2 separate regions of the Homo sapiens genome follow, and region 2 is linked to region 1. The links come from fine-mapping of genetic effects on gene expression. Tissue or cell type: spinal cord. Region 1 holds a variant in brackets; the other region holds the start of a gene. All regions are shown on one strand. Distances are between the middles of the regions.

Region 1 (8,000 bases):
CTGAGGCAAGAGAATGGCGTGAACCCGGGAGGCGGAGCTTGCAGTGAGCCGAGATCATGCCACTGCACTCCAGCCTGGGCAACAGAGCAAGACTCAGCCTCAAAAAAAAAAAAAAAAAAAAAAAAAAAAAAAATTACCTTTTGGCTACTTTTAAAGATTTTCCACATGAATGTTGGAACTACCCAACTTTCAATGAAGAAGTCTTAGCTCTATGCATTTGCAATATTTAACTTCTCCCACTTTTTCCAAATCTCTTAGATTTCAGCTGTTATGACACATTTCTAAGACCTTTATTCAGACCCTTACAGGCTTTTGAAAAGACTCTTTTTTCTTTAATATGAGATGTATTGTGTACCTATTACACTGAATGGCACTATAGAAAAATATGGCTAATCTGTATTTCTGTACTCTTTGTGAATGACCTAAATACAATGTTTACCACCACAAATTTGGTACAACCTACATGAAATAAGACTTCAGTTTTAAATATAATACTGTTCCACATAGTATGACAAATATATACTTGGTATATGAACCATTTGGTATGCTACAATACGACCCACCCCCAATTTAAACAGGCTTATCTGAAGTTTACAGAAGATTTAATATAGTTTACTAGATGATTAAATATAGGTATGGTTGTGCGTGTATGTGCATGCACACATATTTTGCTGAGTGGTTAATATAAAAGCTATGATAGAATGTGAGGATAAACACTGTATTAGCTAAGTACTGTAGAGTAAAAGAATTCAGAGGACCTGGACTAGGATAAAGAGCACAGGAAAAGAAGATGAGATTTCCATAAAACAAGCTTTGACAGCTTTGACCAACTCTTAACTGTCTGCCTGTAGTCTACATTATGTATGAGCAGAAAGTTTGTATTTCACATAGAAGCTTTCCAGTTATTAATTAGGAAAATGTTTACATATGGTATGTCACATGAGTAGGTTTATCTCCTTAGCCGACCAAAGTAATGCAGATATTAAAAAGAATATGTTGTCAGAAATAAATTATTCATGCTTCCTAACTTTTCTAATTTGGTAATTTGAAAACATTAATAGGATTTGGTCATTCTTAATTGTGTTGATGACTATCCTTGCTCTCTTTATTCTCAAGGCTAGTTGAAATTTATCTCATTTATATTAATTTTTCTGTCTGTGGCTTCTCAAAAGTAAAATAACTTCAGAAGCTTCATAAGTATGGAGAAAATGTTAGGTGAAACTTTGCAGAATCATTTATAATTTATATGAGATTTTTCTTTAGTTTTTGAGAACTATCACTTGAATATGTAATCATCAAACAGGTGGCCTTCCACTTATTTGATATGATAGAAGAAAACTTCTAACATTCCAATTTAAATATTTTATTTGAAAATTCACTGCTATAATAACACTATAACATTAAGGAGAGCTGTGTTGTAAACATAGTCCTTCTTTTTAAAAATGGGAACTCTTATTTTATCCTGTAGCTGTTATATTCATCTACTCATTTTTAGTGTTGCTTTCACCAAACAACATGTCTACAGTAAATATATTTCCATTTTATGATTACAGGGAAGTGATTCCTAATGAAAATGAGAACAGAGTGCTCAAATTGGGGTTAGACCATCCCTGTTGTGTCATAGTTTCCACTGTTGAAGTAAAATCCCAACTGAAAAATAATAGGTCTTGTTAGTTGGCAGGCAGGTTTCACTGAGTAAACTAAGTTGCTTTCTAGGATTTTGTGCAGAAAAATTCTGCAATGCTAAAATTCTGCAACGCTAAAATTCACATAACACTTAAAACTGACATCGAGAGTAGTGGCCCAATCACTATGGGAGTAATCAACAACTGTAAAAGTTTTTTGGCTTTAGCCTCTGCTGTGAAAAAGCATGAGAAGTATTTATGAGAATAAAGAGGCCTAAGGGATTGCATTTTCCACAGTTTATTGGACATCTCTACTTGGACAACCACAGACTTCTCAGACCCTACTAGCCCAAATGGAACACATAATTTCACCCTCAAACTCACTCCTCTTGCTGGACCCCAAACTCAGTGAATGGCCTACTGTTCTTCTAGTTGTCCCAAGTGTCTTCCTGTTCCTCGCTGTCACACATATTGAATGCCAGTTCCCGTTCAATCTATTTCCTAAGTAGCTATTTCCTAAATCTCTTTACTTTTCATTCTCCCCTTGCTGCTGGTCCAAGCCATGAGTACCGGTCTGAATTATTGCAGCAATGTCCCAGCTGGTCTCCTTTCCTTCAGCACTGTCCTTCCCCAATACACTCTCTACAGCACAGCCAAATACTACAACCTCAAAGACTTTCCCTTTTGTTGGAATGAAGTCCGGAATTCTTAACATGGATAGCAAGGCCTGTTATTTTCTCTTCCTTGTATTATTCTCAGCTTCATCTCCCATCATTCTCCAGAGCATGTGCAACTGTCCTCTCTGCACCCTAAACTCCACCATATGCACATTCAGTAATGTGGTAATGTCAAGAACTCTCCACTTTCCAACTTTGCATATGCTCTTGTCTCTGCCTGCCCTGTCCATCATCTTGCTAATTTCTATTCACACTGTAGGCTTTAGTGCCTCTTCCATGAACCATTCATGAACTCCACATCACCCAGTCCTAAAATCAAGGATGACTGCTTGCATAACATCCTATATTCTGCCTCATCCTGGAAGTGATTATACTTCATTGTAATTGATGTTTACTCATCTAGCTTTACCACTGGACCTCTGGCTTCACAAGAATCACATATGTGAGTATCTTGCTCACTGTACAACCTTAGCCCATTATAGTGATAAGCCCATGGTAGGTGCTCCACAAATATTTGTTAAGTGAATTAATCTGAATGCAGATATGTACAAAGACCACAGAGTTCAGATTTTTGTCTATGCCCTTAGCTATCATGTCAAAGAACTGGAGGGTAGTGCATAATAACTAGCTGTCTTATTACAACGTACCTCCCTGCAATACAGTTTCACCCACCCTACCCCCCAAAAAATTCTAATCACTAGCCAGATTTAAATCTATTTGACTCTACTTCTTTCAGTGTTGGTAAGAGCTATAGCAGCCATTACTTAAGAAGAGAGTTAAATTACTAATATCTGTCTACCCATTTCTCTGAGAAAATGAAATTACTTCTCTACATAATTAAAACACCATTTCTTTGAACTTGATGAAGAAGCCAATTTTCTTTTGTGTTCCTGCCTCAAAAAAGAATATATGTCTAGAGAGAATATTAGAGAAGTTATTCCATAAGATATAACTTTCTGCTAGAATAAACTTCATTATTCCTACAAAATTATGGAAGTAGCTGGCTATACTTCTCTGCTTACCTCTTAATTTTTCAAAAATAACAAAAATAACAAAACTAAATAAAAGTCTACCCCATATTTTCTAAAATAGAATTCTGCTAAAACACACACACACAGACACATACATACACAAACACACACACACGAACTATGAATTTCTATACCATTCTTCAAAATTCTAAATATTGTCAAAGTCATTTTAAGAGAAACAGAACTAGTTTAGTTAGTGTACATCTGTCCTATGGTATTCTTTGCACCAGTGGATCTCAGACTCTAGCATACATCAGAGTGTCCTGGAGGTCTTTGTAAAATGCAGGTTGCTGGACTGCTCCCTTCCACCTAGAGTTTCTGATTCATTAGGCCTGAGATGGAACCAGATAATTTGCATCTCCAGCAAGTTCCTAGGTGATATTGATGCTAACCTGGGGAACACGCTTTGAGATGTGACTTATACGTGTAACTAACAGTAGGGAAGCACATTTAGTTCTGTCCATGCAGTTCTATCAGGCATTTTGACATGTGCTGTCCTCTTGCTCTCTTTCTTTCATTTTTTTTGGTACCAATATCTAACTCAGCATTACTGCCTAAATACATAAAGCCTGTATTCCATGCTGAAACTTAACAGCACAAGTGTACATCATTTAAAAAAACGAAAACAAAAAAAACCAAAAAACAGAAAAAAAGAGGGCTATTTCTGCAAGTTAAAAAATTAAATGGAAAAACAACCCCAAAATTGCTCTAAGGAGGTTTTGCCTTCAATAGCAAAACATGTTTTGCCTCAATTGTGATTTCTTTGTTCGGGAGCCAAGG[T/A]GGCAATTAAGCTGGCACAAGGAGCAGGAGCCATTTATTTAATATGATGACAGCGTAGCCCTTTGTAAATCCTGGAACAATGAGGGCCCACACACAGGCTCATTCCAAGTTCTAGTTCCTTCTCTTCCCTGTTGCTCAGTGTGAATTCTCATAGCCACAAAGGAAGGGGAAGATTTTCAATCCTGTCACATCCTCCCCCATTTAAACCATTTATAGTCTTAACTTATAAGATATGAGTAAGAAATCTTCTTTAAACATTTTGCAGAGCTGATCATCAAATCTAACAAACTGGTGGTTTTGAAATCTCCTTTGCTCCAAAGACATTCCATTAACCTCTGTGTCCTCTGTTGTGTCATTGTGCTGAGAAGAGCAAGTTAAAAATCCAGTCTTAATTGGGGCTTGGTGGTAGGATTATTTTTATCTTATAGATTTATTTCAATATTCATTTTAGGAAGAAAGAAGACCTTAGGAAGGTCTAATTCTCATCAGTTCTGGCATAAGCTGAGTTAGGGATCTCAGAATTTAAAGAAACGACGCCCTTAATAATGGCATCTGAAGAAGCAAGTGTACCATGCTGTGACAATTACAAGATACTACATCAGTTCCCATCCTCTACTAGGCTCTTTTAGGATGGAGACTCTGTCTGGTTCACTGCTTTATCTCTATAATTTACAATAGTACTCAGAAAATAGAAGGCGCTCAGTATGTAGCAATTATTGCCTGACTGGCTGTCTCTGTAAGCATTACAGGGAATGTACAACCAAAATGTATAAAGTGTAACATGACACCAAAGTTCATAAATTAAATGTTATCAAAATAGATTGTTTTTATAAATGAAGAAAATTAATCAGAAGATATCTTTTTAGAATATAACAACCTCTAACACCCAGTCTACAAATATACCCATCATCAAACTTCTGGCAAATGTTCAAAGTAAATAAACACCTATCATGACTTAAATACCTGGCTTTATACTTCAACAGTGTTCATATGAGTAAAAACATTTTTGCTTAAGTTGTCTACCAGTTTATAATATGGGAAGGAATTCCCCATGGGATACTATCTCCTCCCCCTTTATATAGGGAATACAAGTTTGGCTAAATACTTTATCATAATTGTGCAGAAAGCACATGGCCTTATAAAAGGGCAATCACATATATTATCAATGGGATTGATACTATTATCAATGGTTTCCTAAAAGCAGCCTCTCCATTTTGCAAGTCTATCAACTTATAGTTCTTTACCTTCCCTTCAGCTGAATCTACTCACTTCAGGCTCAGCCTGAGTTCCTGAAAGAATCCTGCCAGGGTGGGACCCATTATAAGGATTTTAATTGCATCTAGGTCATGACACTCAGATCTGGATCTAGGGGTGACTGCTGGCTTCTGCATGATCTACTCTTCTTCTCAGGCTGCCCATTCCCTGAGATCTACTTCATGGACACTAGATCCTGTGCCTGATGTTCAAATTAGGATGGCCTCATACCACAATGTTTTGTTGCCCCTTCTAGCTTTGGATCTCCTGTAACCCCAAATAGCCTAATCTATGCCGGGCCCTCTTATGCCCTTTTGATACTATTTCTCAAATGACTCACAAGACCAGCCTCTAAGGTCAAGCTAGTTCTCCCAGGTCTCTTCTAGTATCCTAGTGCTATTTTTTTCTCTGCCAAGTTCTGATTTCTTTTCCAGTCCCTGTTGCTAAAATCCTACTGAATCCCTCACAGCCACCCAAATCCTGGCAAGGTATGATTTTACCATCTTAAGTTCATTTTCAGGGCTGAGCGTATAATAATGACTGGTCATGCAGCACCCAGTGATCACACTGTACAGAGAGTACAGACATTGGGATGGAGGAAGGGCAAAAAGAGGCCCTTGATACTGAAACATATTTTCAGAGAGTAATATAATTGGTGAATTCTCATATGCTGTGAGGATCAAATTGATGAACCATTTTAGCACTCCCACAAGAATTCTGCTCCCTCATTTCTGCACAGAATTTCATCTTATGAAAAAGTTCCACAATTGTTAACATACTATAGCATCTCTTCATGCCAAGTAGTTTTGTATTTTAAGAATTACAAAATGCACTCATCAAATAATTTTGGCACATAATATATATTTCTAAATTCCAGAACAAATCTCTCTCTTGAAATTCTATTTAAAATACAACCTGGGCTTGTACACCATCCAGTATGATAGAAAAACATATAATCAATTCATAGAAGACCAACACCTGCCCTACAGGTGCTAGAATTTGACATCTTGTTGAAATTAGATTGAAATTTAGTATACAGTATGTAAGAAAAAAGGCAGACTACAATATTTCCTGCTAGTGGACATCATTCAGGCCTCAGAGATGAAATGTGCAAAACTCTTCTAGAAATACTAATCAACTGAAACAAGCCGCCTCCAAAACAGTAATGTGGTCAGTCTGCATGCTGCCAGGTAATTTACAATCCATGACAAGCAGAGCCAAGTGAAAGTTATTTACATTTATTCTACTGGTAGAATAGAAGAGATGAGAGTGAAAAGGATCTGCTGAATCAGATCATGTTTGACTGAGGAGTGACAGGGAAGTTTTCTTCAATTAATAGCCAGCTGCATAATTTGAGCTAATGCCAGCTGGACTTTCATCATGAAACGACACAGAAATAAATTATTCTGTACTCAGGTGCTGGCATAGTGAAGTGAATTAATCCACTTAAATCTGGAGGAGGGAGAGAGAAAGTAGATTACACTATCTGAATTTTTTGAGCCTGTTTTAGCCACACTTTAAGGATACTGAGGTTCATGATAATTATTAAAATGTCCAAGTGGATCCATTTAGACTCAAATACTTGCTTGAATGAACAAATTCTTAGAAGGGAGGAACCAGAGTAGAAATGGCTTTATCAAGGTCATGGTGGTTTCTTTCACCAATTAGTGAAATTCATATTCAACTCAGAAGGTCAGGGGGAAGTGGGCAAAAAGAGTCTTATTAAGAACAACTTTATAGGGGAATTCTTGAGGGGGTAAAAAGGTGACTACAAAGATATAAAGGAATCCAGGACAGGTTTAGAGAGGTCAACTGCCTGCTGGTTCATTCAGAAAAGATTAACAGACCCAGCTGCTGGGACTTTTCTGGCTAGGCATCCTTCCCAGTGGTCACAAGTCAATGTGTCTCCTGGCTGCTTGGCTATGTTCCCATCCGTCTGGATGGAAGAGCGCCCACCCCTACACGCCAGAACTTTTCCTTAGGGGAAAGTTACTGAGGTTCCACGTCAGGCAAACTTTGCTCACCCATCACTTCAAGTAAACAACTCTTCTATGGAGATTTCTTAGAGAAAAAATGCACTTGAAAGCATCTAACCAAAGCAATGAAGGTGGAAAAAACAAGTTATGTGGGAATCTGAGTATAGAATATACAGACATAAAATAAGCTCTCCAAATGAGGAAGCAGTCACAGCTTGACCTCTGAATTGTTTGCTGTTTGTTCCTTCAATATTCAAACTGTAGCCCTGGAAATACAAACACAAACTTCTAAACACTCACAGGCCTGTGGCAACAAAATGCTACATGCCAGCTTCACAACTGGGGCATGCAGACCATAAATCCTGTAGTGGCAGGAGGGGAGGTGTGGAAATAGACTGTCATCATTCTGCAGCAAGGAAAACTAGGTACAAGGAAAAGGCAACTGGCAACACATTCCTGGATTCTCTCATTCATTGAAGAAGGAACTCAGGGATTGAATTACCCAATTGACGCTAGTTCTACCCATGCCAGAGGGCAAAAGTTCCAAGACTGCCACAGGCCATGGTTGCTTGGAATTTAGGCAGAGGTGCTTGGTCCTTAGAGTGTAGCAGAGAGAAGTTCTGGAAAAGGAGCTCCTCATCGAGTCTGGTAATGAGC
Region 2 (8,000 bases), 350 kb after region 1:
TGTATCCCAGCACTTTGGGAGGCCGAGGCGGGTGGATAACTTGAGGCCAGGAGTTTGAGACCAGCTTGGCCAACATGGTGAAGCTCCATCTCTACTAAAAATACAAAAAATTAGTCAGGCGTGGCGGCTCGTGCCCGTAGTCCCAGCTACTTGGGAGGCCAAGGCAGGAGAATCCCTTGAACCTGGGAGGTGGAGTTTGCAGTGAGCCAAGATTGTGCCACTGCACACTCCAGCCTGGGTGACAGAGCGAGACTCTGTCTAAAAAAAAAAAAAAAAAAAAAGCTAATGTCAAGTAAATATAATATGCGCAGAATTTATATTTTGTGTGATTATAGGTTTTAGCTCTTTTCCTTCTACCTAAATTGAGTCAGGCATGGTGGTTCATGACAGTAATCCCAGCACTTTGGGAGTCTGAGGCAGGAGGATCACTTGAGCACATGTGTTCAAGGCTACAGTGAGCTATGATTGTGCCACTGTACTCCAACCTGGGTGACAGAGCGAGACCCAGTCTCTAAAAAAACAATAAATATAAATAGATAAAAATAAATGAATCAAACAAAGTATCTAAATCAAATGTCCCCTTCTGGATATTTGTATCACTATAATCCAGAATATTTTATAATATCAAGGAATCATCCATGCTGCTTGTATTTTCAACCTTAGTGTATTATATTATTGAAAATAATATTTTGTTGTGTAAAGTCAAAGAAACAATAAAATTATTTATCAGTTCAGTTAAATAGTTGTCACATTTTGAAGACTATTGGTTGAAATGATTAATCTGATATGTACATTTTTAAAGAGTGTTTTAAACATTTTTCATATTTCATTTTGTTCTCTTGGTAACTTAGAGACTCATTTCTCTGGTAATTTTATTGTTTGAAATTTCTTGCATGTTGAGATTAAGACATGAATCTACCTTGTTTGACAGACACACTTTATATAAAAAATTTATTTAACATATCCAAATTTCCCATGGACTTAAAAGAATTGACCACAAAATATCTAAGGGTTGTCTCCTTACTGCTTATATACATTTTTTCATTAAACAAGATTCCTCTTTCCCATTGCTTCACAAACTGTTACAAATTCTCAAAATTTCAGCCAAGATAATATCTGGAAATGCTACAGTGCATGCTAGAAATAGCTTTATAAAAGATATACCTTTCTTGATAATCCATAGGGAATCATTCATCCATCCACCCATGAGGCTTTTTCAGAGACATTAACTTGATAGACTATTTAAACCCCCCATTTGGATGATGGTAAGATGGTGGTGCGCACGTACACACACACACACACACACACACACACACACACACACACACCTTTTCTTGTTTGCTTTTAGAAAATTATTGAAAAAGACGTTAGATGTTCTCACTAGCTTTAATTTATCTGAACACTCTTTCATAAGTATTTATATGCATTTTACAAAGTCAACAAATACACTGATTTGCCTCTGTTGTGATCATTAACACCAGTTTATACTGCCCAGAGTTTCTAAAGTTAAAATCTCTAATTACTTCTAGAAGCTTGTGATATATGTCATTTTGTTAAAAATGGATTTAAACCATATCTCATTTTTAGTTCATTCAGGCTTTATGTCCTGTAGTATCAGTCGATATAAACTTCACGTTGGTTTCATGTATTTCTTGATGCTGTCAACAGGCCCAGGTTCTGCACACATTTATTTAAGGTGGGCTCACCACCTTTGATGAGGCAGGAGACTTGGGTTTCAGTCTTAGCTCTAGCACTCACAGTCTATGTGATACTGAACAAATTGCTCGCATCTTCTGGGGCTCAGCATTCTTGTCTATCAAATAGAGATAATACCATCTCATCTCAGTGTTGTTGTAGGATTCAAATAAGTTAATAAATGTAAAATTTCTTTGATAATTTAAAAGCATTGTTGCTGTTCTCTTTAAAATAAAAAAGTATTGTTGCTGTTCTCTTTAAAGAATGAAACTAATATCCATGTCCTCCTTAAAGATGTATTTATTTGCAAAAGCAACTCTATTAAGGAAAAACATGACATGCAATGTGTGAGCATGTGGGGAATATGCAAGTATTGTAAAGAATTTTAAGTCTAAGGATCCTTAAATAGAATGACAATGATATATCAGGTGAGCCACAGTGGCAGCTACATATAAATATTATACATCTTAGTTTGCCTGTGAACCATTCAACTAAAAATTTCAAATAGAACAATTAATCAATGTAGAAAGCATAGCAAAAAATAAATTCAAATCAATGATGCAATACCTCTATTCCAATTAGCTTATTTTTCTTTCTTCCACTCTCTCAGGCATATTCTATTTTATTAAAAAATGAAGTCAATTAAGAAACTCTACAAAATCAATCAGCCCACAGATCAAGCTAGAACTCTTGTTCTTATTTAATGTTTATTAAGGGCTCATCATCACACGGTATTTTTCTATTAATAGGTCAAATATACAAAGTATCAGGCTTGCCTTCATTCTATCATTGGGGTCCTACATAGTGTCGTGCTCAACCAAAGGGGAGAGAGAAGGACATCCACCTCTTCAAACAAAGGGTCTTAGCAGTCTTGGCTGAAAAATGAAACTTTTATATTAATTTATGGAAGTCTGCAGTCTTTGATCTGAATTGAGGTTATTAATTACAATTCTTATTCTTCCCATCCAACAGGTACAAGAACATCTCCAACAAGGTACCTAAGGGTGTGAGCCAGGCAAAGGGCTAAGAGCATATATGCAAGCTGAAATGATGTGTACACATCAGGGTTATGATAGTTTGGCTGGATTCCCTTGTACATAGTGTATACAACAGAGAGACATGCTCACACACACACACACACACAAAACTCAAACACACATTTGAACACCATTATGATTTTCTGATCAGTCCAACCTACTGTCAATCAGAGTTGGACAAACAATCCCAGCCCTAGATTTTCCTGTTTCCACACCCAGACCTGATTTACAATTTATAACTGCCCATTGTTCAGACTTGTGGCTTGGAGGTGCAGTACATCGATGCCTGTCCACATCTAAGGTTAGATGACGACCCCTCTACTTTACTATTAGATGTGCCAAGGATCAGCAGCTCCTGAAATCTTTTTCCTGTGCCTGTGTGGGGGAGGGGATTCACGGCGTGGAAGGCCTGGGACAGGGAAGAAAGGAGCTGTCCCTGGGTTATCAGGAAAGGGACCAAACGTGGGCCCCACATCCACCTCCACGCCTGAGTTAAGAATCTGGAGCTGACTCCTCAGAATGGCTGTAATTGGTCCTTTACTCATTTCCTTGGAGAAGCAGCGGTCAACTTCTACTAAAACTCCCGGTTGATAGGCGGCTTCCCTGCCCTGTCTTCCGGAGCACTTACGTTAAGGGGAAATCACTATAATCAAATCTCTACGTCTTGCCTGCTGCTAAAACAAGGCGCTTTCTTCCTGGGATTTTGCAGGGACGACTGATACACACACGGTCTCCCTACACACAAGCTCGCACACACCGACACAGTGTAACTCCCACAGCGTCCTCGCTCCTTCTCCCTCCCTCACCCCCTTGTCTCTCTCAAGGATTGCTGAACATTTTGCTCCAAACTCTCCAAGTCACCCACGTGTTCTCCCCTTTTGCTATTCAATTTACTTCTCCACCTGACGAAGAGAAATGCGAGTTGTTCTTAGGCTTTTAGCTGCAATCCTGGGACCAGGCTTTCTCACTCCCCCCTCCTCCCCAGTCAGAGCAGCCCCACCGACCCTCTTCCCAATAGGGTGAGTGGACAGATGCTGGGTGCTTTCGCTGGTCAAATCCCGCAAAACCTTCACCTTCTCTTCTTCTCCACCCAGAGCAAACTGATTTTGCCTGTTTAGTCTCACTAGCCAGGGTGGTATGGAAGTGGGTGGGGAGAGGGCTGGTGCGTGGCACAGATAACTGGGAAGCGCGCGCACCACACACACACACACACACACACACACACACACACACACACACGGCCCCAGTTAACATTTATGCAGTACTTTTGGGGGGTCTCTTACACACACCTGAATAGCATACTCTCAATAAAGGATAGGCACACCCCTGTTTGTCCTCCCCCAATTTCCAGACTAGCATTTTACCCTGGGTCTAGAATTGGTGGTGATAAGCCGACTTAGATGGAGTATTTGAGAAAAGGGGAGGTGACCCTTTGCCTGAATGGGGGAGGGGGCGCTCTCCACTCACCGCCTGAGTCCCTGGAACGAGGAGGGCCAGGACATCCTGGATTTCTTCAGGCCGGGCCGGTGGCCGGTCTCCACCGCGTAGGAGGTGCGGTCCATGGCGCGACAGTACAGGTAGCGCTCGGTGTCCGAGTAGCCGCGATGCCGGACGCGGCCGGTGGCCCCGCTCGAGGCGTAGCGGCCGCGGGCAGCCCCGGGCGGCGGCGGGGGCGGCGGCAGGGGGGGCGGCGGCGGCGGCTGTAGCGGACACTGGGGCTGGGGCTGGGGCGAGGGTGGCGGCGGCGGGGGCAGGTGGTGATGGGGATGCAGGAGGCGGAACTGGGGCTGCCGGAGCGGGTACTGGTGGTGCTGCTCGTGCCTCCAGAGATGCTTGGGGGCTTTGAGCGTGGCCCCGCCGGCGCTGTCGCTGCCCTCTCCGCTGCCCGCCCGGGCCGGCGCGCTGCTGCCCTCTGCCTCCATCCTGGCTCGCGGCTCCGCGACCTGCTGCCCAGCCCGGGTTCACCGCGCTGGCCCGAGCGCCTTCCTGATGCTGCTGCTGCTGCTGCCGCCGCCGCCGCTTCTGCAGCCCAGCAGAGGCTGGTGCTTAGCTTCTCACTTGAAGGCGCCAGAGCCTCAGGGCTACCGAGAGGGGGCCCTGCCAGCGGGAGGGGTCACAGAACGCGGCAGGGCTCCTTCCACCGAGGCTATGGCAGAGACACGCTCCCGGGCTCCCCAAGTCACCAAGACTAGGGTGCGCGGTGCCCGGTTTCGCCAGAGGTTGGTCCTTCTTCCTCCCTTTCTTCTTCCCTTCCTTTGGGCGCCGGCGGCGAGAGCAGGGATTGTCAGCAACTCGGGCTGCAGAAGCAGCAGCAACGGCGGCGGCGGCAGTGGTAGCCGCCTCCAGGGCACCGGAACCCTGATCCCGGAGCTGCTGAAAAGTTGGACAGCTCCAGGCTGGCACGCCCGAGCTGTGACTTTCACCAAAACCACTCCAGCCAGTCAGGAGTCAGACCTGTCCTCTTGATCCTTCCCCTCGCCGTGCCCGCGCCTCCCTCCTCCACACTGCTCCCCACTGCCCCGGAGCCTTCCTCTTCACCTCCGCTTGCCTCAGTGCTCTTAGAGAAATGGAGTTTGGCGATTCCTGGCTGGTTCTCAGAGCTTGTTGACGATGAGCCCCATGCTGGTGCTTCCAAAGATAAGGAATGTGACCAGGCAAAGTTGCCTGGAATATTGTCTATGCGCGTCGCTGAAAAATTGGATCTGGGTGAAGATCCAATAGTAAGATTAATTCAGTCTCTTTCCCTGACATAGGATAAAACATTGTGTGGCTCTTTCCCACAGCAGGGAGAATGCCCAATGTTTCCTCTTGAAGATCTTCCTCCAACTTGGCCTCGGGAGTGGTCCTCGCTGGAAATCAAGGCGAGTCGTCCTTAGTTGCAGAGCCATGGCTGAGCCCGCTGGCCAGAGTTAAGGTTAAGGCACCTTTTCAATTACAAACCTCTGATTATCTTCGGTAGTCTCTATCTTCAGTGCCTGCCTGCAATTTGCCTTTCTGCCACTTCCAGCAGAACACAGCTCTATTACTAAAGTGTTTTAAAAACATGTTGTATCAATATTCACAGAAATTAGAGTCCTATGAGGCACTAGAATCCAAATTCAACTTTTGTCTTCCTTTAATTAGCATTTTCCTGCAGTGTCAAATGTTTTTTAAAGAAGCCAAGAGGATTTCAGGGCAATATATAGACACTTTTTTCCCTGTACCTTTTTTATTTGACCATATTACTTAAAGATGAAATGCAATTTGCTTACTGTTAAAATAATTCTAGAATTTTTCTTTGTGGAAGTTACCACGTACCATCCATTATTTGAACGATAATATATTTAGGACTCACAACAACTTGTTGGCTGTGTAATTATTCTATTCTTCCCACACACTCAGTCTTAACATATTTTCATATGTACATTTCAAGCATATCATGTAATGGATGCTAGAGTACCAGAATCAGGAACCATGTCTCAAACTCTCTAGACTGCTGAAAATTCAACACTCTCCACACAGTCTAGATGCCACTGGGAAAATAATGCCAATGAAAATAAGTGCTCACTTTGTTTATCAGCAAGAACAGTCCACGAAATGTGCAAGTGGCAGGAGAAGGCCTTCATCATCTCTTCATGCTATTTATTTATTTATGGTTGGAAATATACCTTTCCTCCATCAGTTTAATATGAGCCCTCTGCTCATATGTGGACTATACACAAAATCTGAGAAAGGTTGTGTCTTAAGAGAAACAAGGCAATCTCCTAAGCACCACTCTCCACTGTGTAGGATTAAACCATACTTTACAAAGGCACTCTTTTTGCCCCTTTTGCAGACACAAGTGTGACTGGTGGCAGTGGTCAAAGTATTTACCATGCCTAGGAGGGCACTAAGCCAGTATTTTCCCAAACACAAAAGGAGAGAAATGGAAGTGTTCTGCAGTATAGACTGCCTTTTTCTTTTAATTCATTGCATTATTAACATCCAAAACCATTTTAAAGAAGTACACAAATTTCTTCTTTCCCCTGAAATGCTTGCCACCTTTCGCCTCAATATAACTGTGGCAAAATACCTCTATCCGAAACTCTTATTCTAATTTCTCATACACTAACAGTACAAGTGACTTATAATTTTTTTCCAGATTAAATTGGAATAATTCAAATCCAACCTGATTTTCACCACCAATTTGCTCCTTCCTTTTTACTCATGAAAACTTTATCTTTTATATATTTCCCACTGATTTTTAAAAATTCTTTGTTTTGTTTTTACTATGTAATTGCAAGTCAGGAACATTTTAAAATGTAAGAAAATCATTTAATATGTTTCCAACTTGTAGAGTTTTTAATTTAACTTATAATTCCAAAATGTTATTGATAGTAATAGTTTCTTGTGTGATCTTTGAGGTTACAGCTTGAGTTCCAATCTACCACTTCCTACCCATGTTACTTTAGCTAAATTATTTACCATCCCTGTCTCCCATATGCAAAGTAGTACTAATATTACCTACTTCACAGAATTTTGCAATTATTTAATGAAATAATACTTAGCACAATGCCTTATATGCAATGAATGTTTAATAAAGGTAGCAATTTTTATTATTCCTGCCAGGCTGGGAAGTATCCTAAATATCATGTTAATCAGCAGTTCCCAGTCTTGGCTGTACCTAGGGAATATCACCTGGGGGAGCTTGAAAAAAAATGTCTGATGTTGAACCTAGAGCAGTGATTCCAAACTTTGATGTTATCAGAATCACCAGGAGAGCTAATCCAGCACACAAAGACCCAGGCTCCATGAAGCAGGATAGGGCTTGAGGCTTTATACTTTTACCAAATTTGTGAGAAGATGCTGCTTCAGTGTAAAGTTTGATCATCACTACCCTGCCTAGACAAATAAAATCAGTATTTCTAGGGGAGGATCAAGGCATCGGCATTTTAAAAAACTCTTCATGTGATTTCATACATCAGCAACTACTGATCCAGACTTACTCTCTCATTAAATGGTTGCAAAAACACTGTAGATACTATTAGTTGACTCGCCCTTGTGTCTCAAATACTTCTAGGGAAGTCCAGCTTATAAGCAAAGTTCTCATGAAAATATGCACTTTATGTATTACTCTAGTTGCCTCTATGCTAAAAGAAAATCTTATACTGCTGAATATTGAGCACTCCCAGCCTTCCATTTAAAAACTCTTCTCATTAATCTAGGTATTTCCTACTTTTAATTAAAACAACAAAAATGTAAAATATTCCATCTACCCATTGGTTTTCCCTGCTTATATGTTAAATAAAT

Alleles and levels. Positions count from the first base shown, and alleles are read on the strand shown. Sizes are in standard deviations (SD) of each study's normalised expression.
As copies of A replace T in region 1, the expression in spinal cord of the gene that starts at base 4,758 in region 2 goes up (moderate effect, 0.54 SD a copy in GTEx).

What was found. PIP is the estimated chance that this variant, and not a neighbour inherited with it, causes the effect.
Region 2: PDE4D starts here. The variant in region 1 is fine-mapped to the expression of PDE4D in spinal cord (GTEx, PIP 0.98).

The regions. Positions count from the first base shown.
Region 1 is chr5:59,536,404-59,544,403 of GRCh38, forward strand. All of the region lies in intron 1 of PDE4D (phosphodiesterase 4D), which reads right to left. Among named protein-coding and RNA genes, the nearest start is that of MIR582, 160 kb to the right of the region's middle. The variant T/A (reference allele first, on the strand shown) is at 4,114.
Region 2 is chr5:59,888,969-59,896,968 of GRCh38, forward strand. It overlaps PDE4D (phosphodiesterase 4D), which reads right to left and starts at 4,758. Exons shown (of 15, transcript NM_001104631.2): 1 at 4,200-4,758. The coding sequence starts at 4,654.